Linked DNA regions of Homo sapiens: region 2 is linked to region 1. Evidence: fine-mapped expression QTL. A gene starts in region 1. The other region holds a variant in brackets. All regions are shown on one strand. Distances are between the middles of the regions. Region 1 holds the start of VPS37A (VPS37A subunit of ESCRT-I). Region 2 overlaps MTMR7 (myotubularin related protein 7).

The links. PIP is the estimated chance that this variant, and not a neighbour inherited with it, causes the effect.
Region 2: its variant is fine-mapped to the expression of VPS37A in cerebellum (GTEx, PIP 0.94).

The regions. Positions count from the first base shown.
Region 1 is chr8:17,239,003-17,251,556 of GRCh38, forward strand. It overlaps VPS37A (VPS37A subunit of ESCRT-I), which reads left to right and starts at 7,956. Exons shown (of 12, transcript NM_152415.3): 1 at 7,956-8,367. The coding sequence starts at 8,243. It overlaps CNOT7 (CCR4-NOT transcription complex subunit 7), which reads right to left and starts at 7,855. Exons shown (of 7, transcript NM_013354.7): 1 at 7,673-7,855; 2 at 6,034-6,245; 3 at 3,990-4,183. The coding sequence starts at 6,150. RefSeq lists an enhancer at 7,604-8,452.
Region 2 is chr8:17,326,732-17,339,285 of GRCh38, forward strand. It overlaps MTMR7 (myotubularin related protein 7), which reads right to left. Exons shown (of 14, transcript NM_004686.5): 7 at 4,419-4,551. It also overlaps a transcript of VPS37A not described here. Among named protein-coding and RNA genes, the nearest start is that of MTMR7, 80 kb to the right of the region's middle. RefSeq lists a silencer at 7,749-8,043 and an enhancer at 9,112-10,311. The variant A/G (reference allele first, on the strand shown) is at 5,574.

The sequences.
Region 1 (12,554 bases):
CACACAAATATGTCTGTGTATTATCTGTAAAACAAAATAAAAACCACTATTCTGTTGATTCTGCTTTCCCTTCTTGAGACAGGGTCTGGCTGTCATCCAGGAAGCAGTGGCTTGAACACGGCTCACTGTAGCCTTGACCTCCCGGACTCAAGCAATCCTCCTTTTGTAGCCTCCCAAGTAGCTGGGACTACAGATATGAGCCACCATGCCTGGCTAATTTTTCTATTTTTGTAGACAGGGTTTTGCCATGTTGCCCGAACTGGTCTTAAACTGAGCTCAAACAATCTGCCCACCCTGGCTTCCAACTGGCCTCCCGAAGTGCTGGGATTACAGGAATGGGCTACTGCATCCAGCCTTCCTTCTTATGGCACTCTCTATCTCCTTCTTTACACTGCCACTTTCCTTAAATGAAGCATCAGCATCCTTTCTGTTACCACCAAACCCAAGGTGCCCTGTAATTTCTACTATCCTATTGAATTACTGCAATCACCAAAAGTGATTTTTCTTTTTTGAGACGGAGTCTCACTCTGTCGCCCAGACTGGAGTCAGTGGCATCTCGGCTCACTGCAAGCTCCACCTCCTGGGTTCACGCCATTCTCCCGCCTCAGCCTCCCGAGTAGCTGGGACTACAGGTGCTCACCACCACACCCAGCTAATTTTTTTTGTATTTTTAGTAGATACAGGGTTTCACCGTGTTAGCCAGGATGTTCTCGATCTCCTGACCTTGTGATCCGCCCGCCTCGGCCTCCCAAAGTGCTGGGATTACAGGCGTGAGCCACCACGCCCAGCCTAAAAGTGAGAATTTGTTAAAAATTTGTTTTAATCCTCTTTATCAGTGACATTATTTCCACAGAATGCTTCTCTTCTTCACAGCTCATCAGTACTCCACTTCAATTTTCATGGATGTATCAACTCCAAATTCAGTTTGGAGAGAATTCCCATACGTTACAATTGTAATTCTTAGACTTAGGCAATAGAGAGAAAACAGAAGAGTTACAAAACACTGAGTTATAAAGACCACGACCAACTTTCCTCAGTACTAAATCCCTAGTGTCTAGCACTGTAACTGACACTCATTCTAGCCACCCCATTAAAAAGTCAATTTTGATCTTTCTTCCAAATTTCCAAGATTCTCTTCACGGTGCTCTCTCTATATTAGGCATTACTCGTTTATCTTCCAAATGACTTCTTCTACCTAATGTTTTTCACTGTATCCTTCTCCTTAAACATCTCCTAACATCAGTGTAAATCAAGCTTGTCCAACCTGCAGCCAGTGGGCCACATGTGGCCCGGCATGGCTGTGAATGTAGCCCAATACAAATTTGTCAACTTTCTTAAAACATTTTGAGATTTTTTTTTTTTTTAGCTCAACAGCTATTGTTAGCATTAGTGTATTTTATGTGTGGCCCAAGACAATTCTTCCTCTAGTGTGGCCCAGGGAAACCAAAAGATTAGACACCCCTAGTGTAAATGGTAGCAAAACTTGGTAGTAAACTTTAGCAGTCATTTTTGAGTAAGAAAGAAAAAATGTCACTTACAGGCTGTACTAAGAAAGCAGTTGTTACTCGAACAAAGGTGTTTCTAGAAAAGGAAACTGTCAATTTTATCCAAACTGAGAAGCTGATGGGTTACCTCCTTCTCACGTACTGAGATCACAATAGTATCTAATTTAAAAACAATGTTCTAATTCACTTGAACAAAAAGTTAACATGGAACAAATGAAATGGTAAAGCACTAATTTTAATAAAGGTTTATCATTTGAGAAAAAGGATAGGAGGCAATTTTCAGTGTTTCACAGATGTAGTTCTTATAAAAGGTTTTCAGTTTGAGTGGAGTACTTTGCACCCTTTATAAATGAGGTGTTCAATCTTTTGGCTTCCTTGGGCCATACTCAAAGAACTGTCTTGGGCCACACATTAAATAAACTAACTTAAACAACAACAAAAAAATCTCATAATGTTTTAAGAAAGTTTACGAATTTCTGTTGGGCTGCATTCAAAGCCATCCTGGGCCAAGGGTTGGACAAGTTTACTTTACAAGGTTCTGTAGACTGTGCGTGTGTGTATAGATACAGGTATTTTTAGAGACAAAGTATCACTCTGTTGCCCAGGCTGGAGTGCAGTGGTGCAATCTAGATCACTATAGCCTTGAACACCTCAGTTAAAGCAATCCACTTGGTTCAGCCTCCCTGTACCTGTAGTGCTAGCTACCTGTACCTGTACCTGTAGTGCTAGGACTACAGGTACACAGCCACCATGCCTGGCTTAGTTTCATTTTTTTTTTTTTTTTTTGTAGAGACAGAGTCTATGTTGACCAGGCTGGTCTAGAACTCCTGGCCTCAAGCAATCCTCCTGCCTTGGTCTCCAAATGGAGAGTATATTATTAAACCCAAAAGAGTGAAATGGAGAGTCAGGCTAAACACAGTGTAATTACAAGCCACACTACTATACCACAGGCATCATTACTCTGCTTTTCCTAAGCCCTACTTTCGTAAAATTGTGTATACTAAATATCTTTGTTTATCTGACAAAGAACAGGAAGAAAGAATTCATACATTGGCACTACCATTAATTGCCTACAGTTTCTTTCACTATTTTACCTACCAGATATTAGGATGTATGACACAAATGTAGGATGTCAAACAGAAGAACAATGCAATATTGCAACATACAGTTAAGTACTCACTCAACGTTATCAATAAGTTCTTGGAAATTGCAACTTTAAGCCAAAAGATGGATAACGAAACCAATTTTTACCACAGGCTAATTGATAAAAACAAGAGTTAAGTTCCTACGGCATATTTCTGGTCACAAAAAAATCATCAAACTTCTAGATAAAGACCAAAATACTTCTAATATTAAACAATGAAATAAATGTGAGCTATATGTAAATTTAAGAACAATTAATAAAAACAAGATAATTATTTGCTCCATTATTCAGTTGAGGGGTGAAGAAAGCCAGAGCCTATTCTGGCAGCTCAGGGCACAATGTGGGAACCAACCCTGGTCAGCATGTCGTTCCGTGGCACAGTGCACTCACACAGATACACCTACTCACTCACACTGGGACAACTTAGCCACACCATTTCACCTAACGTGCACAGCCTTGGGATGTGGGAGGAAATCAGAGGACCCGGGAGAAAATCCACATATACACGAGAACGTGCACACTCCACTCAGGTAGTGGCCCGGGTCAGGAATCAATTTTATTTTTTATGAAGGTTACCATGAAACAATGTTGAAGAAAATGTCATTTGAGGTCCTGCTGTAATAAGAATGTATTATTTTATTTACCCAACTTAGTTTGCAAATAATCTGCCCCTCTCTAAAAACATCTAAAACTTCCCTTAGCTATCAAGACTACTTCTATTAATAATACAGAAATATTATAACTAAGGAAACTGGGTGAAGACCCAGGGCTTGAGTTAGAATGAAGATTCTGACATATGATAAACACCAGGTTCAAGGATACTACTACTTCTCCTATATGTAAATTAAGAGAGCTTTTGTGGGCTGAAGTGGCAACCTAATGATAATACTGACTTGAAAGGAAAACGTACCCAAGGTTCCAGAAAACGTCTTACTGCATTTGACATGTAATCTACTCATAAACTGGAATATGAATGCAACAAAAATCTTCACAAGAAGGATAAATATTATAAAAGGCTATATTTCAAATTGCACACAAAATTTTTGAAAGTAAAACTAATGTAGGATTATTTTTTCTATCAGAAGTACTTTCAATACCCAGTCTTCCAAATACAAAAAAAGCTGCAGTCATATTTTAAATATAACATCTTTAACATCAAAGTATTTTTTTTGGTCCCATAGTAAAAAAGAAAACCACGCTTTTGAAATGTTACGTTTTATATATTTCCAGGATAACTACACCAAATTCACCTAGCATGTCACCATACTTGAGGAAAATCAATTCCTAAGATTAAAGAAAAAAAAAAAAAAGTCTGGGTTATACAGTTATTTCCCACTTACGTCAAATTAAATTTAAAATTAAACTGCCAAGTTGAAGTTCCTGGAGGGTATTCTCCTTGCTCATTCATAAATGTCAGTCCTAGCTGAATTATCTTTAACAAGTCTACATTACACCGCAATAGTTGGTATTGATAGTCAGCATTGCTCCTGAATTCTCCAATGGGTCTTGCAACCACACCTGGAAACTCGGTGTCCTGTAAAATAGTTTTAAGATTCATTATGTACTAAACAGTCAAAACTACAATCCACACATTTTTAATTTTTGATGCAAATCAAAGAATCCTACAGATGATATTCTACACATTTATATTCAATTACAAAGTATATTTTAACTAGAAAGAACATCACTTTTTAGAACCATAAAACTCTATAAACTTAATAACCTTTCCTTAAATATATCCAAAAAGTTACTATACGAGATACATGTGATAAATTTAACCAAATACTTACTCTATAACCAAGAAAGGGGGGAAAATCATAAATTCCTGTCTCCCAAAGGATACATGAAATGATGCTCACAGTATTCCAATGCTAAAACCAAGTTTCTTGAAGAACTGGTTCAAAAGAGGGGAAAACGCCCTGTACTTTCCAATTGCTTCTCTGACACAAGGTTTTTCTCAACACCAAAACCCTAAGAAAAACATCATTAGCTTCCTAATTTCTCTGGCTTAAACAATATTCTCTCTATAGTCCACAGAAAGCATGCTGTCAAGAATTGCATGCCACCTACTCACTCTTGTAGGATGTTATCACTTCTCTATGTTGCCACTCTTTATCATCTGAGAAATCAATGATCACTATGAATTTCCATTGGTTAAGAAAACAATTTTAGTTCTAATCATGGGTAAGTACACCTTTATCAAATAGTATGTCATCTACAAAGAAACAGTCATATTTTAACCAATCAACTTGCTCCTCCCCAAAGTAATGCATTTGTTTATTTTTATTAAAAATACTGAGACAAAGATACATCGGTTTAGTATTAGAATTCAAACTAGGGCTAGCTAAGAATAAAAACTACCTATCAAGTCACTATGAAATAGTAAAGAAATCAATATTTCTCTAAATTCAGTGCAATTCAACAGCCACTTTATTGAATACTATATGTGTTATGCTAGGTGTTGGGAGAGAAAGGATTAAAACACTTGGTTTATGGAGCTAATAATAATCCAGTGGATGTAGAAAACAGTAGGGTAGCTAACAGATATAGACAGTATAATGGTAAAGAAGAAAAATCATTAACTGGATAGACAATCTAGGCAGACCAAACAGCACGTGCAAAAGCAGAGTTGCTTAGTAACACAGTATATTCACAGAACTCCAGTGTTAATTATGAAAACAAATTGCAGACCAACAACGTTTCACTGGCACATCTGATTTTTTTGTTTGAGAAAGAGCACCCTAGCTTCTGGGAGCTCATGTGGTACTACCAGCTAGGCTTTGGTGTTGCTAGGAGCAGACCTGGCACTCATAGCCACGCCCTAATGTTCTCCTGTTGAACACAATTTCACAAAAGTTCAACCTCAAATAAGGCCACTCTGTAATCATGTCTGAACAAGGACAAAAAAATAAAAATGTCAAACCACAAAATGACCAAGTATCTCCATCCTGGCTAAATGAATGACTGTTCCTTCTCTGCAGCTTTAACCTCATTCTAGTCTCTCATTTAAGACTTAGTAAGATACCCAATCACAGAATTACCCCAGCTTCCCGAACACATCCAATCCACAGTAAAGCTCTGCTTCCCTTACCTTCCCCTAAGACCACCTGACACGAGCCCAAATCCTTCCTAACTCTTATTCAAACGGCCCATGGTTCCCATGAATTCCAGTGCGTTTTCCCTCACTGCAATGAGGGATAAACCCAACCTGTCAAATCACAGGTGTATTCCTGATGGATTTTGGCTGGAGGGCAGTGACAAATTTTACTTTTCATGGTGAAATTAATCCCTAAAAATATCAACCAAAAGGGTTGAATTCAAGACTTTAAAATTTCCTTTTCCTCCTTTATATGAAGCGTTTTAAAGATCTGCTTGTGGGCATACCATAGCAACGTAATTATATTTTCGGATAACTTGACGAATTTTCTTCATCTCTTCATCCAAGTTGCAAGCCCAAACTTCACAAATTCTTTGGCTATGATCTACAGTTGCCGCTGGCATAGTGAGGGCACAAGGGAGTCTAGATGCCAAGCATCAAAATGTTATACTTGATTGAAGATTTGTTTCATAAAATATTTTATCCTTTATTTATGTACCTGTCAAAATAAAAAAACAATATGAAGACCAGATATATCAAATCTGAATCACAGAATAATTGATCCAGCAGGAACCTAAGAAGTTATTTATTCAAAGTTCTTGACTCATAAAAAAAAAAAATCAAAGTTTAGAAAGTAACTTAAGGTCACACAGCTAGTCTATAGGAAAAAAAGGACTACAGTACAGATTTCCTGGTCCTAATTTCAGTTATTTTAAAATAGCTTTTTTACACATACATACTAATCATATTTTATAACTTTCCACTAATTATTTATCTGAGTTCAACTACTCTGCATAAAACTTTATAAAGCCATCCATTTCCAGACAAAAAATGAAAAATTACTTATTTACATGTGACAAGATCAGATGTTACCATGGCAAAGATGGTGTTTATTTTTATTCCTCATTAATAAAACAACCAAAATCCGACTTGATAACAAGATCTACTTTACCGGCGTTTATTCTAACTAGACTAGAGGGGTCAAAAATGTTTGTAAATGCTCTGAGAAAAAAGTAACGGCCATGAAAATTATCTGAATGTTCGCAGTTGCAGAACGGAAAAAGAACACAATAGAACGTCTAAAACTTAGAGCATATTGCATGGTTACCAAAGATAGATGTCACATTTCTGGTCTATAAACAGAGTTCCTGTTGATTCTTGGGCAGGGAAATTTCAAATCCTTCTGCATTTTTCATACAAATTGGAAAAAAAAAAAACAAGAGTAAAAAGAGGGTCTTATGACTGTCTTCTAAACTCTGAAGAGTCACAAATGTAACTTCCAATTCTCCAAGTAGAGAAACTAAAGGAGATCCAGGACACCCCTCCTTTATAACTCTCCCACCCCGATAGGCACACACACACACATAAGCACAAAAACACAAAGACTTGGAAAGACCCTGTAGTCTAACATTGTTTTCCTCCACCTCTCTCTCTACTGCAGTCCCAGAAGCCCCGAAGAGACACCAAAGGCCTTCTCATTACTGGAGAAAGCATCTCCGTACTGCAGTTTCCCAGAGAAACGAGAGGACGGCACCGAGGTATTCAAGCCATAGATAACTCTCTTCCCTGGCAAAGCGCCAGTGCGAAGGTGCTGATAACACTGACTGGAGCTACACTGACTCCCAAGCACTGCCGCGTGAAACAATACGAAGAGGTGAGGATCTAGGCCACCGCCCTCCACTCCCAATTTCCGTCCCACTGCGAAGCCCCAGGTACAAAGCCTTTGCGTCATCACTACGCGCCAACCCCTTGACAAACCCCCAGCCCCAGTTACCCAGCCCCCAACCCGCCGCCAGGCTCCTTCCTCCGCCAGCCGCACTCCAGCTGGCGCCATCGCGCACCCTCTCAGGTTCATCGTCCCCGCCCCCTTTCTACTTCCCTAACCCGCCCCTCCCCCCGTAAGGCTGCAGCGGATGCAAGATCTACTTGTGTCGCTGAGCTCGCGCTCCTCCTCCTCCTCCTCGCCATAGAGACAGCACTCGGCGGCGGTGGCGGTGGCGGTGGCGGTAGCGGCGGCGGCAGCGGGTGCCCCATAGACACCTCTCGCCCAGCGAAGGGAAAGGCGAGCAGGAGCTGCGCCGCACCGTGCTGCGCCGTCGCTTTTCGCACGTCCTGACGGGGGCGCTAGATGATGACGCGACACGCAGAGGGGGCGGAGAGCGCCCCCGGGGGCGGGGCACGCAAGTGACGGCGGCGCGGGTGGTGGAGCGCTGGGCGGCCAGGCTCCCTGGCTGGCCGGTTTGGGCGTCTGGGCCGTGAAGGTGGGACCTCCTGTTCCGGGCCGCAAGTTTCCCTCTCCAGCCGCCCGCCGTTCGTAGCATGTCCCCCAGAACTCGGGGAGCGCAGGCAGGACAGGCTTAGAGAAGACGCGGTCCCCAGCGCTTGGGCCACGGACGTCCCACCCCGCTCCTCTGTCGCTGGAGAACCGCCGGGCCGAGCCACTGGGAGAAGCAGGCCAGAGCCTTCCAGGGCCTCCGGCCCGTGGACCCGAGGAGGATGAGCTGGCTTTTTCCCCTGACCAAGAGCGCCTCCTCCTCCGCGGCTGGGTCCCCCGGTGGCCTCACCAGCCTCCAGCAGCAGAAGCAGCGCCTGATCGAGTCCCTCCGGAACTCACACTCCAGGTGACTGGTCGCTGCCTCTCCACCGGAGGAAAAAGTAGGGTGGGAGGGCGGGCTTGTCCTAACCACCCTCACAGCGCCTCAGTCTGCTCCCCACCAGCTCCTCATGTGGTTTACCTCCCTTGGTTGTGGGTCACACGCTTGCTCTGCCACTCCTGCCCCCTTTTACTGTTTTCCTCCGGACCCTCCCTGCCTCCTGCCGCACCACTGCTCAGCGCTTCTAACTCGGATTTCCTCATCCCTCCTGACACATAGCTGCTGACTGTAATCTCTCAATCTCTCTCATAGTCTATTTCCAGTATCCCTTGCTGCCCAGGCTTCGCCACTGATCTTTCCCTTTGCCCACCTGATTGCCGCGTCAGCAGAATTGTTAAAATACAATTGTGAAGAGTAATCTCCAGGTTTCACAAAGAATGGAAAATAGAACTGTTGCAACATCAAAGGAAAGGGAAGCCAGAGTTTTCATCAGTGAATGCTTCTCGTCTGAGAGTCACTTATCACGTAGTCAGTCTTCTTGAGTCTCTAAGATTTACCCTGTTGGAGCAGTCTCTCCCCATCTCACAGCGACCAGTGCATGTACATTTCTCACTTCTTTCATAGTCTTGTCCCCACGCTCAAGAATTACTTTATGTTCATCTTGATTGTTCTGTTGTCTTCCTGTGAGTTTTTCATTTTATCATGGTCAGTTTAGAAATATTTTTACAATTCATATTATTTCAACTTTTACTGTAAATTGGTTTGCTGCAGCCTTTTACATTGCAAATGTCTATGGTCTCTAATGGTTTTCAAAAATTAGAACTGCTTCTTTATATTTTATGCATTTTGCAAGTATATTTACTTAACAGTTTCACACTATTTTAAATAAAGATGACAACATTGTTAAGTCCCTAACCCCTTTTTTTTTTTTTTTTTTTGCCGGGGGTACGGCTCTCCTGTTGCCCAGGCTGGAGCGCAGTGGCGCGATCTCGGTTCACTGCAACCTCCGTCTCCCGGATTCAAGCAATCATCCTCCCTCAGCTCCCCACACCCCTCCGAGTAGCTGGGATTACAGGTGCGCGCCACCATGCGCGGCTAATATTTTGTATTTTTAGTAGAGACGGGGTTTCACCACATTGGTCAGGCTGGTCTCGAACTCCTGACCTTAGATTATCCACCCGCTTCGGCCTCCCAAAGTGCTGGGATTACAGGAATAAGCCACCTCGCCGGGCTCCTAGCCCTTTTAAAAATATTATTTTCATACAGTTAAAAAATATGTATCCTCAGATAATATCGAATAATTCTTATTTAAAATGGAATAATTTTTAATTAAATAGTCTAGTTAATAGAAAAATTTACTGCAAAATCAGTTTGGCTAAAATAAGGCCTGATGCTGACTGAACTTTAGGTGTTTCTTGGTTCGTTGTCTCAATTGTTCTGTTTGTTCAGAACTTTCAAAAGGTGAAATTTTATGCTGTTTAACAGAAAAGAATGGCAGGCTGTTATTGGTGGCTTTCATTCTGGAAAATTAAGTTCGCAAAGTTCTTACAAGTCACTCTTACTCCAAATCATGTTCTGTACTGACCTTTAAGAGCTACTCTCACAAGGTATGCTTATAAAATAAGGGGACTCGTTTTTAACATGTTTGTTCCCTTAGAAGTTGTTACCTTGGTAGACTATATACCAAACCAGTCCTGCTATTGCAGAAACACTTTTTTAGAACCACACTTTTGGAATTAATTGCTTTTAAACCTTAGTATGTAGTATTATGTTAAATATTTTCAATGCTGACTAATTTTTTTCTTCGAGGTTGGAGTTTAATTTTTTAAATACTACAAAGTCTCTTGCTGCTAAGGCTGGTAAGTAAGGGAAGTAATTGATGTGAAATTTATAATTTTGGCCTCCCAAATAAAGTGAGATTCTATAGCAGCAATTGTTAATGTAAAGAGTTCTGGAATTGGCTTAAGAGGATCAGTAAATACGCGGAGTTGGATACAGAAAGGATTCATTTTATGTATTATTTTTTGAACCAGAAATTATGAACGTATGATTGGACATGATTACATTAGATAATGTAATTTATTTTGTAGTGTTATGAACAAATAACTAAGTATTTTATTGTTTTAAGTTCTTTTATAAAAACACTTGAAGTTTTATTGAGATGTTTCGCATTTACAAATTATACTCGAATAATTCCGGAGACACTTAAGTAGGTCATATGCTTCCAGTTTTCAAAGAATGGCACAATCCTGGAAAATGCCACTCACCTATTCTTGTTAGTCCACCCTTTTAAATAATGACATATATTTGTAAGCTGGGAGGTAAAAAATAATCTGTCTGTATGGTATCTGATGTAAAGATGGAAAAGGTGTGATATTTTTTCTCATCAGTCATAAGGGGCACAGCTGACCCTCCTGTAACAAAAGACAGGTTAACAAGCGAAAAGCATAACAGATTTATTTAATCAAAGTTTTACACTGCATGGGAGCCTTCAGAAATGAAGCCCCAGAGACCGAAGGAAAACTGTCTGTATTTATGATTAGGTTCAATGAAGAATGGACAGCCATGTAGAAATGTGATTGGACAAAAAGAGTATGGTAATGGTAATAGACAGAGGTAGGGGAAACCCACCAAGGCCTGTTTGTTCAGATTTTTCTTGGCTTCTCTGTATAACTTTCTACTCCTCTAGTGGACCGGCCCGGGCTCATATGGAGTGAGGGTCTTCAGGGCGGAAGGGAAAGTGACCTTTCTAGATTTTTTGTAGGGAAGAAGGGTTGTAGTTTGTAATATACCGCCCAGGGGAGGAGGAATTCTGGTTTCTATGACTTCTTCAATGGAGAAAGAGGGGCAGGAGGTGGTCAGAGAGAGCTTTACTTCTGAGGCCCTCCAGACTCCTTTAATTCAAAGTAATCAGCCTACCAAAGTGCAATATTTTGGGGTATTGTTTTCTGAGCCCCAATACTGGCAATATGTTGCCTGATTACCTAAATTAGTGGTACGACTTACACTTAAAAGATTTTTGTGCGAACAGACAGATTGGTTATTCTAAAGGTGTGGTGTGTAAAAGTTGAAAGAATTTCCAGTGTGTTTTTTCCTATGAACAGTACAAAAACTTGTTACATGAGGAATATCAATATCTTGTTACATGCTGTCCATCTCCCTCATGTTTCGTTTTATGTCTCTTCTCCAAATGTAAGCTCAATAGGTGAATATCTTTTTTTGGCCATGAAAGTATCTTTTCTTCTGCTCTACTGAGTAACCTTTCTCTACCCCATTCTGTCATCTCCCTTCCAACTCTTACAATTTTTAACCCCTTATAATTCCGAAAATTCCACTTCAGCAGTCTCTTTTTGTCCCTTTCTCTAATGATTGTGAACTTTTTAGTTGCCTTAAATTCTTATCTCCTCAGCTACCTCAGTCTTCTACAAAAAAAATAGGTGAATTTTATGTAAATTTTTTCATCTGAGTCTCAACAATATGCACGGCAAATGAGATAACTGTCATAGATGACACTCACAGAAAAGTGTTTAACCAAAGTGTTTAAGTCAGCTGTGAAAATGGAAACTAGAAATTATGCCTCCTGGGCTCAAGTAATATGTTCTCTCTTCTAAGTATCACTTACCACAGTATTCAGTTTATCACCAAAACTCCTGACTTTATGGACAGGAGTAGAACTAATTCTGTTTCTTATACTTCCTGAGGAAGCTGACTTTATGGACACTGTTGGTTTTTCCCTCTGCAAGGCCCATACTTTGTGGAGGCTGGAATCTTTCAACCCAGCCTCCACTAGAGGTGAATAAGGATTGTTTATGCCAGTGATGATGGTCTCATCACCCTTCCCCCCAAGTTACTGTGGAAGCAGGACTCTTGGTTAGTGGGAGTTGGAGGGGAAGTCTGCTGGGGAGCTGCTCAAAATGTTTTCTCAGCAATAGTAACAAATGACTGGGAGGAAGAAATGTCTCATGTTTTGGATATTTTTATGTGAGACAACCCTGATCCTCCAATTCCTATCTGTAAAATCAGCAATTGTGATTCCTGTCATGCAGGATTTTTGATAACTAAAAAATATATGTAAGACATTTGGAAGAGTATCTAGCACATAGTAGGCATAGGACGAATTACATTCCTTCTTTCTACTGCATAGAATCAGTGTGCTTGAATCTTTGCCTCTTAGCCTATAAGCTTCTAGCCAGCTTATTGTTTGTAGATCTCTC
Region 2 (12,554 bases), 88 kb after region 1:
AGGTTCTTCCCTGTTCAAACTTCCTGATGAGAACGCAGCCCAGCTGCCACTTTGACTGCAGCCTTGAAAGATGCTAAGAGGGTCCCTGAGTTCCAATTTATGCTTGAGAAACATCCAGACTCCTGCCCTACAGAAACCATGAGATAATAAATATCATTTTTTAAAAAAGGAATATACCGACCATAGCAAGTATTTTGTAAATAAAGAGGGAAAAAGGGAATAACATCAGTCTTATCTTTCCTTGGTAATGCAGTGACCATTCTGCACATGCTCTCCTAGTCTTTCTTCAGACATATGATTTACTGTATAGTGAATAAGAATATGCAAGCAATTTTACGACCTGAATTTTTTGCTTACATTATACATATTCTCCCATGTTAGTACATATAGTCTTCACATTTAGTATTTTTCATGGATGCAAACTTTTCTATCAAGAAGGTGAAGTAAAATTAATCAGTCTACTACTGTTAGACATTCATTCGGCTTCCAATATTCTACTATTATAAATAAAACACTACTATCAACATAGGCATGTCTATATCTTATTTTATTTTTGAGACAGAGCCTAACTCTCTGTCACCCAGGCTGGAGTCCAGTGGCACGATCATGGCTTACTGCAGCCTCAACCTCCCAGGCCCAAGTGATCCTCCCACATCAGCTTCCTGAGCAGCTGGGACTACAGGCACACACCACCACGCCTGGTTGATTTTTTTTATTTTTTAAATTTTCTGTAGAGACAGGGTCTCACTGTGTTGCCCAGGCTGGTCTCAAACTCCTGTGGCTCAAGTAATCCTCAATGTCTCAGCCTCCCAAAGTGCTGGGATTATAGGCATGAGCCTCCATGCCCTTCCTGTATCTTTATTTTTTAAAAACGTATTTTGGATTAGTCCCTAAGAGGAAGAAACCTGGTAAAAAAAAAAACTATCTCTAAACCAAATATATTATGTCTGTCTAAGCCAATTTAAATAATACGATAAATATTTAGAGCACTAGTTTTACCACATTCTTTTGAGTATTGAATATCTTAATTTGTAAAAAATTGGGTGGCAAATGGTACTTTGAGGTTTTAACTTACATTTCTCTAATTACCAGAGCAAATTTACATGTTTATCTACATGTTTATTTCAACTTACTGTTTACTCTTTTAAAAAATTATGCTTTTTCATCTATACAGTACAGATAATACCACATACTGCACACAATTGTTGTGAAAATCTCATACAATCATTTAAATGAAAATACTTATGAAGTGTGGCAAAGAGCAGTTGCTCAATTTTTAGTTTAATGAATACATTGATGAATAAGTGGTCAGTGAAACAATGACCAACAGTATTAATCTAACAGTCACGTGGAAGGTAGGCAGGCACAAAGCTACTCGTGGGGAGAAAGTGAAATTTTCTAGGTGACCTCCAAAAGATGGCAAGTTGATTGGCAGAGGAGGAAGATGTCCCTGTTGCTTCTTTCCTATCAGTGCCTGCTGACCTTCAGGGCAGATATGAAGGGTGTCCCAGTGGGGCACACCCTCAACAAGTGGAGAGATGCAAGTAACTCCATACACCTTTCCACCTTCCTCTTCACCACTTCCTCCCCAACACCCAGGATGCCTAAGAGGTAAAAGCTCCACCTCTGCTGATAATAATAGGCTGGCCTTGAAAGGGACTATTCCAGGCTCTTCTACGGACTGTTTTAATGGATGGAGCTGGAAGCCATTATCCTCAGTAAACTAACTCAGGAATAGAAAACCAAGCACCACATGTTCTCACTTAAAAGTGGGAGCTGAACAATGAGAACACATGGCCACACGTAGGGGAATAACACACATTGGGGCCTGTTGGCGGGGGTGGGGGAGTGGAGGGAGAGCATAAGGAAAAATAGCTAATGCCTGCTAGGCTTAACAGTTAGATGATGGGTTGACAGGTGCAGCAAACCATCATGGCACACGTTCACTTATGTACATCCTGCACATACCCCAGAACTTAAAAATTTTAAATAAAAAAAGAAAATACAGGGTATCCTCTTATTACTTGAGGGAAAAGCCAGTATCTATATTATCAAAAGGGAAACTATCGTGAAAATCACTTCATTAAATAACAAAATTGCTTGCTATGTGACTGAAAGGCATCATTTTCTCTCCTTACGAAATACAGATCCCACAAAAATAGTTTGGTTGAGACTTACAAATGGAAGTTAAAATTAGATCATCTCTATAGAGGACCTACACAGGATGTGAACTTGGTCCTAGATTTCAGTTTCTGATGAAATACCTTGCAGCTCTTGCTCACAGACAGCTGTTTGAAACCAGAACGCAAACAATTTTACTTTTCTGTTATTCAGAATCTATTCTGATTATATCCATAACAGTAGTAAAAAATAATTCAGAAAATAATAATCATGAATGAAACGCATCATTCATTCCTCTGCCTACCAAGTGACCAGTAGTATGAGCCTTCATATCTCTTTGATGCCAAGGATAGCTGTTTGAAGGAGGAAAAGCCTTAGAAGGTGGGTCTGATTGCAACACTTCATCATCAGCTCAGCCTCCGCAATGGTTTATAATTTACTCGGTAAAAACAGATAGTCAAACATTGGTCAAGACCACGTACAGGCATCCAGAAAGATATCCTAGCCTACTGCACTGCACGTAGCTGGAAAAGTTACGTGCAAGCACCATGTTCCCTTATGAAACAGACAGCTGCCCTCCAGAACTTGGTCAGTTTGCATGTTCTTTAGAAAACAGTAGTGTCAGACCACAGGCATAAGGGCAGGAGAAATGGTTCCTGACGAGAAACCAAAGATTACCCATTTAAAAACAAAAGCCAAATGTGTATGCTATCAGCACTGGTAGGAGCAATTTTCTGCAAAGAAGAATATTTATGTTCTCCAGGTCATCTTATGAAATGACTAAATAAAAAATTTAAATAACTTAAGGGTCCTGATAAATGATGAACAGTCTTCAGACTAAAGTCAGACTGCCTTTCCAATAACAGTACCAAGGAGTCCAATTTTTCAACACATAAAAAACATAGTTTGTAGCAGGAACAGCCAAACTCTGCATGATAATCTCCAAAAGTTGAAGCTGCTCAAATAATCATGCCCAGGGTATGATCACTGTGACCTGAGACAATGTCAGGTATTGTCACTGTGACCTGAGAGACTGACTGCCAATTATGTACAGAAGATGGAAATGGCTCTGGGGCTGAGATGTTTTCAGATGTAGGAAGGGATTTCTGCTACAGAGGGGCATCAAACTGTCACAGCTGGAAGACCCATAGAAAGTATTGGCCTAATCCTGTCATTCTGCAGCAGGTAATGCAGCCCCAAACAAGTTAACTGATGTGTTCAAAGTTTCATAATGACTGAGATGAACCAGAAAGTCCAGGAAACAGAATGGAAATTAGGCCTGTTTGTGACACTCAGATTTCTCCAACCCCAACGTTAGGGTGTTCTGATTAAACGAAGAACGGCTTAAGTAACTGAGAGCAAACGTGGATTCCTGGAAAAAATAATTCAGCACCTTATTTGTCCCTCTTCATTCCAGAGCCTGCATTTCCCATCAAGACAGCCCACTTCCCGGGCTCCCAGCTCCAGCTCTCCAGGGCTTTCCCCAGAAGCGCAGACAGTGCATGGACAGCCAAGGCACAAGGCCATGGTTTCTGCATCCTCTGTCTTTTCCCAGTTCGCAGAGCCGGAAGTGGTAGACTACAGCGACAGATTCCTCTTGGGGTCACTGTGATCACAAGGAGCAGAAGCAGCGGACTAAGCTGGTTTTGCTTGAAATGCAGAATTTCTGCTCATCAGCATATGGCTGGTTGGCCACATGAATAACTCTTCTCTATTACATAATCCATCTCTTTAATTTCCTGTCCACACGAGTATATAAGTCTGTGGGTACGTGTCTTGTCATGTTCGCCATATATGTCAAAGTGTGTGTGGAGGTGGCGGGAGGTTACATGCATGTGTATTGTGGTGGCTGCTGTTTAGAAATGAGGGTCAGCTCCTCCGATATTCTCCCTTCGAATGGCCATTCAGCAAGGATCAGTTTTTGAGCCTGATCTCCATACAAGAATGGTTGGTTATTGCTTTAAATGTAGGATTGCCTTATTCCTAAATGGCCTTGAATGGGGATCAAACTAACATTATGAGGAAGAAACAAAAACATCCCTGTGCACTTTGACCTTAGATGTTCAGTACCATTGTAGAGTCCCTGACTGCTAACCACCAAGCGACAAAACCACATCACAGTGATGCTTACAAATAAGAGAAACGTTCTTAAGTGTTTAAAAAGCCACTGTAACATGATATTCTTCCCAAATTATCACACCTATGTAAAAACATTTTAAAATCAAGACTATCTTATTCCCTTTTGGCATCAAAATACTTAACTGCATTTTAATGCTGTGCATAAGGAAATGGTTTACCTTCCAGCATTTTCTGCAGACTGTTCCTCATGACATGGATGTTCTCTATCCCGATAAACTGAAACTTGATATTGGAATAATTGTCTTCATTCTCATAGCCTTTCCCTGCAGCACGATTTGCCATTGCATTAAGCTGCAGTGGTCAGCAAAACAGAACAGTCATCAATTACATTGATGAAACAATGATGAAACAACCAAAACATTTCATGGATACCCAATCAAAGCATTCAGAATGATGTACGGAAACATAATACGCTTATTTGAATCACTGCAACCTTGTACTGAACTACATAGCTTCAGGGACTCCTGCTGAGCTTATATTCAACAGCATGAATTTGTCAGTGTGGGTCACATTTTCTTAGCTGGAAAGCAGTCTACTGATAAACCCTTCTGGAGATGTCACTTGCAGTCCCCGTCAGAGATGCCAAACTGAATGTGGAATTCTGTGATGGAACCAAGTAGTCCAATTTAATACCACACATAACCGGTAGGTTGGCAGAAGAATATCAGCAGAAACAGCTGTCAAAATAAGGCTCTATACATTATTATATCTTCTAGTATTAGATTGCCAATAAACACGTTATCAAATAGGAATGGTTGCATCATTCTAATTTGCCCACAAGATCCCTCAGATGCCCAGTTAAACCTTGAGCAGGAATTACTGAATAAAATGAAGAGAGGGAATGCAACCAAGTCTCCAGAGACATTTCCACCAGCCGCCTTATTTAAATCTAGAGATCTATTGGGCTTTTTGATCACTTTCATTATTATAATTTTGCATATGAGAAGTTGGGGTCTCCAAGTGCAAACTAGGTTAAGTCACAGTGGTATCTGAAGAAGTTTATTAAATCCAAACACTGTCCTAGCCTGCGTGGCTAAAATCAAGAAGGGGACAAGTCCTACTTTAGCTGGGAAATGCATCGGTTTCTAGAATGTGTAAACATTCTTGCTATTTTATTAAGCAGGTCATCACATCCTAGAAAACAGCATTCGCTGACCATTCTCCTCCTCCACCCACCAAGGACAGGAGGGCTAACCCAGGCAGAGAACCTACACTGAGAACTCACCACCAGAAAAAAATATCTGCTTTTAAAAGCACAGTGCACAATAGTACTTTTTAAAAGCTAAAAGAGCTAAGTTTAAAGTTAAAGACAC[A/G]TATGTTCTTTGACACAGATCTCCTAAAAGTCTGACAAAATTAAAAGTACCAGCACATAAAAATAGATGCCCAAGAATGTTTATTGAAAAAAGCTGAAAACCCATGACTATCTCAATAGGACAATGACAGGATACACAATGGTTTATCATGCCCTGACCTGCGAGCAGTGACCAAGAAGGAGGGCACAGATCACACAGCAGACAGACAGATGCTCTGAGGCTTACGATGGGGTTATATCATGATGAGCCCATTGGAAGTTGAAAATGCCGTAAGTGAAAAGTGCATGGCAAACTGGGAGCTGCTGCCGCTGCTGCTGCCCAGCATCACAAGAGAAGTACACTTTCTGAATGTCTATTGCTTTTGCACCATTGTAAAAAGCCACAAAATCATATAGGTCGAACCATTAAGTCAGAGACCCTCTGTGCATAGACTTGGCATTGGCCCATGACAAGTGAAAAGAGTAAGCTACAGAATAATATTCATACAATCATCCATTTTTATAAAACCAACTTATAGATATGTATTTAAGTTTTTGCGTGTTTATCAAGCAGAATAAAAATGTATAGAAAACGGTACCAATTTGGCAGCAATTACAGCAGAAAGACAGCATGGCAGGCGACAGGAGAATGCCATCAGTACTACTTTGGATGCCCCTGTAATCTTTCATTGATACCGAGAGCATATATGAAGTTTGTAATTGAAATAATAGAAATAAAGTATATTAGAAGTGAAAAAAACAGCAGAGGATAAGCCATTGCCATAGGAGCCCAGGCTGGCAGACACCTCACATTTCAATAGCAGCCCTGCTCCATGACGTGGCTTATGTGACATCAGCTGGGCCACATCAGCCCCTCAGGACACTGTTCCCATCCACAAAAGGGTGTCATCTTTCTCCCAGGCATGCTACGAGAATAAAGAGTTTGGCCTTAATCAAGAAAAAAATATTAAAATAATGCATTTTAAGACAACTTATGTTCACACTTTAAGAAGTATAAATATTTTATAGGGAAAACTTTTGTAAAATTACCTATAGACATTGTTCTTCCAAAACTAATAAAATATCACTGCTTTGTATAATTATTTTTCAAAGATGTTGGTTTATCCTTTATAACAAGCATCATAAATAAAATTAATAGGAGATTTGAAAGTATCCTTACGTGACATGAACCTTACGTTTATGCTGTATCTTGACTAATTCAAGTGAAGCCTATTCACCACATACCACAGAGATACTCTTTTAAAAAGCATAAGAAAGAAAAACCAGCCAGGCACAGTGGCTCATGCCTGTAATTCCAGCATTCTGGGAGGCAGAGGTGGGGAGATCTCTTGAGCTCAGGAGTTCAAGATCAGCCTGCGCAACATGGCAAATCCCCATTTCTACAAAAAAATGCAAAAATTAGCCAGACATGGTGGCATGTGACTAGTCCCACCTACTTGGGAGGCAGAGGTGGGAGGACTGCTTGAGCCTGGGAGGTCAACGCTGCAGTGAGCTGTGATCGTGCCACTGTACTCCAGCCTAGGTGACAGAGCAAGACCCCATGTTACTGATCATTCTCCTCCTTCACCCACAAGGGACAGGAGGGTTATCCCAGGCAGAGATACAAAAAAAAAGAGAGACAGACTACACAGTCTACAAAAGTTAGAATGTAGAATAGATTTTTTAAACATAAACAAAAATTAAAATATTATTTTAACCTATAATTAAGACTCCATGTACACATTATGAAATAGCTGATTATCCTTGATCTGGGAGAACTGATTGGTAATCTCCCTTAAAAGCAAAGCAGCAACACAAATAACCTCCTGAACATCAATGTGCACTTCTCAGAATGAACAGAAGGTGGCAATATTTCATCTACCAGCTGAAGTGTAATTTCTTAGGATCTCCACCTTTTTTACAGGACCTATCCTGATAATGTAGCAAAAGCTGAACCCTCAAAGCAGGAGATACGGTTTTACAATTAATAAAAATTCAATGTTATCTTGGACATTTTACGTGTATGTGTGCGCAGTAAGATACGGCATCCCTTACATAAACAAATCGCTATTACTACATCAAATACGGTCCTCTGTCCCTTTGACTGAGAACTCCATTTCACAACTAAAGAAAAGCTATGCATTTCAGGTCCTAAAAGTTCTCAAGTAGATAAAGCAATAAAGGTAGTCACTTCAGTTCCAATTCATGTTTAAGAAACACACAACAGATAGGTGAAAAGTAGGACTGCAAAAATACCCTGTTTCCTAACACAAGGTTCATTTGCTGTTTGATAATATCAGTGTCTTTGGGTGCAGAGAAGTTAATAAATGAAGCAAAGTCAACACTGTATAGACACCTACTATGGCCAGGCGTTAAGTGGAATCAAAAGAAGCTGTTCCTGTTGCCTTCAGCTTAGAACTGACAATGGAAAGGAAAGCACATGGCACCCAGTGGTCCCAGATGACATCCACCAGGACTGGGCAAGAGCTGAGCAACGGGAGAGACAGTGACAATGACAGGAGTTGAAATCTAAGGAAACTCTGTCGGCCTGGGGATCAGGGGTAACGTTTTGTTTAAGAGAGAAAGCTAGAGCTGGACTTTAACACAATCTGTAAGGATGGAGAGAGAGGGGAGGGCATTCTACATAACCAATGAGCGAACCACTCCAGGTGAAGACGAAGGTTCCTGTGTGGCAGCTACAGCAAGAGGGAAGGCTAGAAAGCACTGAGGGTCCACTACAACAGGCCCAGCCAAGGAACTGAGGCTCCACCTGTGGCAGCGGAGAGCAACTCCAGGATTTTGAGCAAGTCTAACTGAAAAACTGGAGACTGATTTAGTGTCCACAACAGAGAAGATGCACAGGAATAAGGAGCGAGCAGAGAGGGATGGGCACGGAAAACCTCAGCGCTGACAGAGAGGAGGGACGGAGAACGCAGGCTCCACGAGGGGCCCTGAGTGTCTCATTGATGGCCACATCCGTATCCTTCAAACCGGCATGGAACAGGCACTCAAGGAAGATTTACTGACCGGCTGAGCAACTGCATAAATGACTGGATAACAGAATGAGGCCCGGGGAGAGCAGGCCAAGACTGTGAAGAAACAGCATGAGATTCTCACCCTAACCCTGAATCAATCAAATGTAGAAAAACTCAGTCTGTGTTCATCTTGGTATCAGGTTAAAGGTCAGCCTGGTCACTGCCTTAGTCCTCAAGTCTACCATTTCCACAGCTACATTTAATGCCTGAAGAATGACAGTGCCTACGCTGACATGGTTGGGAAATGACCGTACAAGCTGATCTTGGCAGGAGGGGGACTTGGTCTTGCCCTAACACAGGTGGTCAAATGACGGTCTTTCTCTCTCCCTCCTATATAACTGGTTACAGGAAGAAACTTCACTTGTGGTGCAGACACAAACATGTGAGTTGATTTTATTCCTTGCAACTATTCTCTACAACTGTGCTAGTCAAAATCCTCCTTTCTACCCGCTAAGGACCTCTTGGGCAGATTTAATAGCATCAGGTTTACTTACATTCAGATAGAAAATCTCCATCCGGCCTAACTTAGAATTCCAGTCCCGTATGTGACGCAAAATTAGCTCTTCCCCGCCGCCTTACAGGCTGTGTGGACTGCTGAGGGGTTTGCTCCGGCCCACCCTCCCTCTCCTCTTTATTGTAGGCCCTATCTGTGTACTGGGAGGATGGGTGCAGAGGAGGGAGAAGAGAAGAGGTAAATTTCTCTTTGGAAAGCTCGGCAGGGTTCCAATTCTCTCTTCATCGGTTGACATGAGTTGGTCACCACTTCCCTCTCTGGCATAGCGTCCAAGTGCTCAATCTCCCAAGGTATAGATGCAGGTTTTTGGAGGTAGGGAGTACACATCTCACTGAAAAAGGAGATGCGCCTTGGCTTGAGTCTATTCCAGTACGCTCAACTTCCCTCACCAGCACACCCACCCCAGTCACCTACAGCTGAAGACACCCGGCGGCTGAGCCCTTTTAGGAATGCTGAAGCAAGATGGCTCATGCTCAACTTCCTTCCTCAGGCTCCACTGGACCCACAGGAAATTTCTCCATCCTTGCCCTGCCAAAAGGAGGGAGCACAGATTGCTCCACGGCCACTGGACACTGCCCTCGCCCCAGTTCTCTTCACTCTGGTTGCTGCCATGACGGCCACCAGCAAGTGTGAGACCCCCGATTCCCCTCTCTCAAGCACCCCTCATCTCTACCACTGACTTTCCTAGGTGACCCCTCCCAGGACTCAGCGAGTAGGAACCACCTACTCACTAATTCCAGAGAAAAAGAAAAACATCCCACGTGACATCCTGTTACACAACTAAAACCTCGCTGACCTGGTGAAATCACGGGGCAGAACCACAGCAAAGTCTCTGGAGAAGGAGCAAGGACAAAAGGCCAGGCGTCACGGAGGCAAGCGCTGCCTCGCCCTCGGCCCTTCTCTTCATGCCTCAGCACCCCCTCCGCTGGCCCTGGCTGCGTCAGAGGAGCTGCTGGGAGGTTCTCTGGCCTCGTCAGGCGTGTGCTCAGAGGTGGTAACCCCACAGAGCTTCCACGTGGAAACGAGGCTCTGCTGGAGAATTTTTGTAAACAGAAAAAACACCATGGTCAAACGGAGCGAGTGTGGGCTCTGGGGTTAGATAAGCCTGGATGTGAATCCTGGAATGTAAACTGTGAGACCCTGGGCAAATTACTTAACCTCTTTAAGTTCTAGCCCTTATCCATGAAAAGAAACAAAACAAAACAAAACCCTCCTAACTTGCCAGGATTCTTAAAAGAACTAAATGAGAAAGTACCTTGGCTGGGCACCGTGGCTCACGCCTGTAATCCTAGCACTTTGGGAGGCCGAGAAGGGCGGATCACCTGAGGTCAGGAGTTCGAGACCAGCCTGGTGAAACCCCGTCTCTACTAAAAATACAAAAAAATTAGCCGGGCGTGGTGGCGGGCACCTGTAAACCCAGCTACTCGGGAGGCTGAGGCAGGAGAATCACTTGAACCCGGGAGATGGAGGTTGCAGTGATCCGAGATCGTGCCACTGAGCTCCAGCCTGGGGGCGAGTAAAACTCCGTCCCAAAAAAAAAAAAAAAAAAAGTGCCTGCCATTTTTACAAGCTCAGCAAAGTCCCAGAACAAATTAATGACAAAGTCATGAACAAGGCTGCAGTGAGTTAGCCCTCATTTGAAAATTCAGCGAAGACTGCGACAACACCTTCATATGTTCTTAAAGCGCCACACCCTAGCACTAATACGTGCCCTGAAGAGTATAATTTTTTTTTGGAATTGACATTCAATACATGCTTGAAGACTTCATTGACTTTGTCTCCCAATTTTTTCTTTTTCTTTCGAGACAGGGTCTCACTCTGTTGCCCAAGCTGCAGTGCAGTGGCACAATCACAGGTCAGTGCAGCCTCAAACTCCTGGGCTTAAGCAATCCTCCCACCTCAGCCTCCCAAATAGCTGGGACTACAGGCCCATGCCACCACATCCAGCTCATTTTTTTCTGTTTTTTGTAGAGATGGGGGTCTCACTACGTTGCCCAGGCTGGTGTCTCCCAAAAAATGTCAACAAGTAATTCTGAGGCTTTCATCTGAACAGGCAGCTCTGGAAGTTCTCATGTGGGGCTAGCCTTGCTCAAAGGCCAGGAACGATTCAGGTCAGCTCCTAATCCTTTTTCTTTTTAATGAAACCTGTGAGCAAACCTGAGAAGTGCCTGCTTGCCAGGGTCCACACCTTCTAGAGCAAACTCAGTCTCCTGGCTACCAAGGAGGCCTAACACACTCTGGAACAAAAATCAACATACACAGTCTTTAAAAGAATGAAAGCTCTAAGTAAACAGTTTAAAACTCACGTGAAGTGTGCGTGCATGGATAAATATGAGAAGAGGGCATGGCTTGTACGAAACCCCAGTTTTCTTTAATGGATCAGTGTCAAACTCATCGCTGAGAGTAAACACACTTAGCACTAAATATACCCTTCAAATCAAATCCTTTGGATTAACTTATTTTAAATCTGGAATATGCCTGGCTCTACAGCTGCCACGTTTCCTAGAAGGTTTACACAACACAGTACATATCTGGATCACTGGTCCTAAAATTAGTAGGTGAATCTGTCTGGCTTTATTTAAATCTGAAAAAAACAGGGTAAGAAACAGGCTTCCCAATCTCTCCTCAGTAAAGCCCCCGTCTTTTCTCTTCCTTTTCTTATCTTGTCTTCAGTATATCTAAGCAGCTAATCATTAAATCATCTGTAACTATTAGGAAATTCAAAACAGCCCCACCTTGCTTCAACAAAGGGTACGAAGAAGAGGTGGGAAGGCAGTCACATTAGAAGGAAGGGTTTAAACACAATGAGCCAGAGAGAAGGGCACAAATTGACAGAGAACAGTAAAAGCCAGAGATTTTCTGGTATGTTTCAGTGAAAATCTTCCAGCAAAGGAGCTATTTTTTTTTTTTTCAGTTTGAAACTTTTATCTGTGTGTCGTGCTCTGAGAATTTAAAAGGAAGGGACCCTTTACTTATAATCTAGTAGAATGTGAATGTGATCTAGCTGTGGTATCGGTTTCATCACTGATCTCCAGGACTGATTCGCTCATCTGGCATCCGTGAGTAGTAACTCCACACACTTCTCTCCCGCTGTGTGCTTTGCTCCGAAGAAGACTGGATGGTTCTGAGATGAGGGGACGAGTAGGGCACTGATCTCACTCTAGGAAAACATCACATTCCATTATCCTGGACACAAATCATAATACTTGGTGACATGAAGTTCAGAGAATCCGTGAAAATCACCAAGGCCTGAGTATCCACACAAAGGATAGGATGCAGTTCTCGTGATTTCTGGGATCACCAATGAGTGTAGACCGTGTCTATAATTACCTCTTCCCCACAGTGTACACTTTTAAATGACTTGAGCTGCTGGTTCTATTTTACCCTTCCTGTTGTAATGTTTATTTCCTATGTTCTTTTTTTAATACCTTCACTGACATGTAATTCACATGTC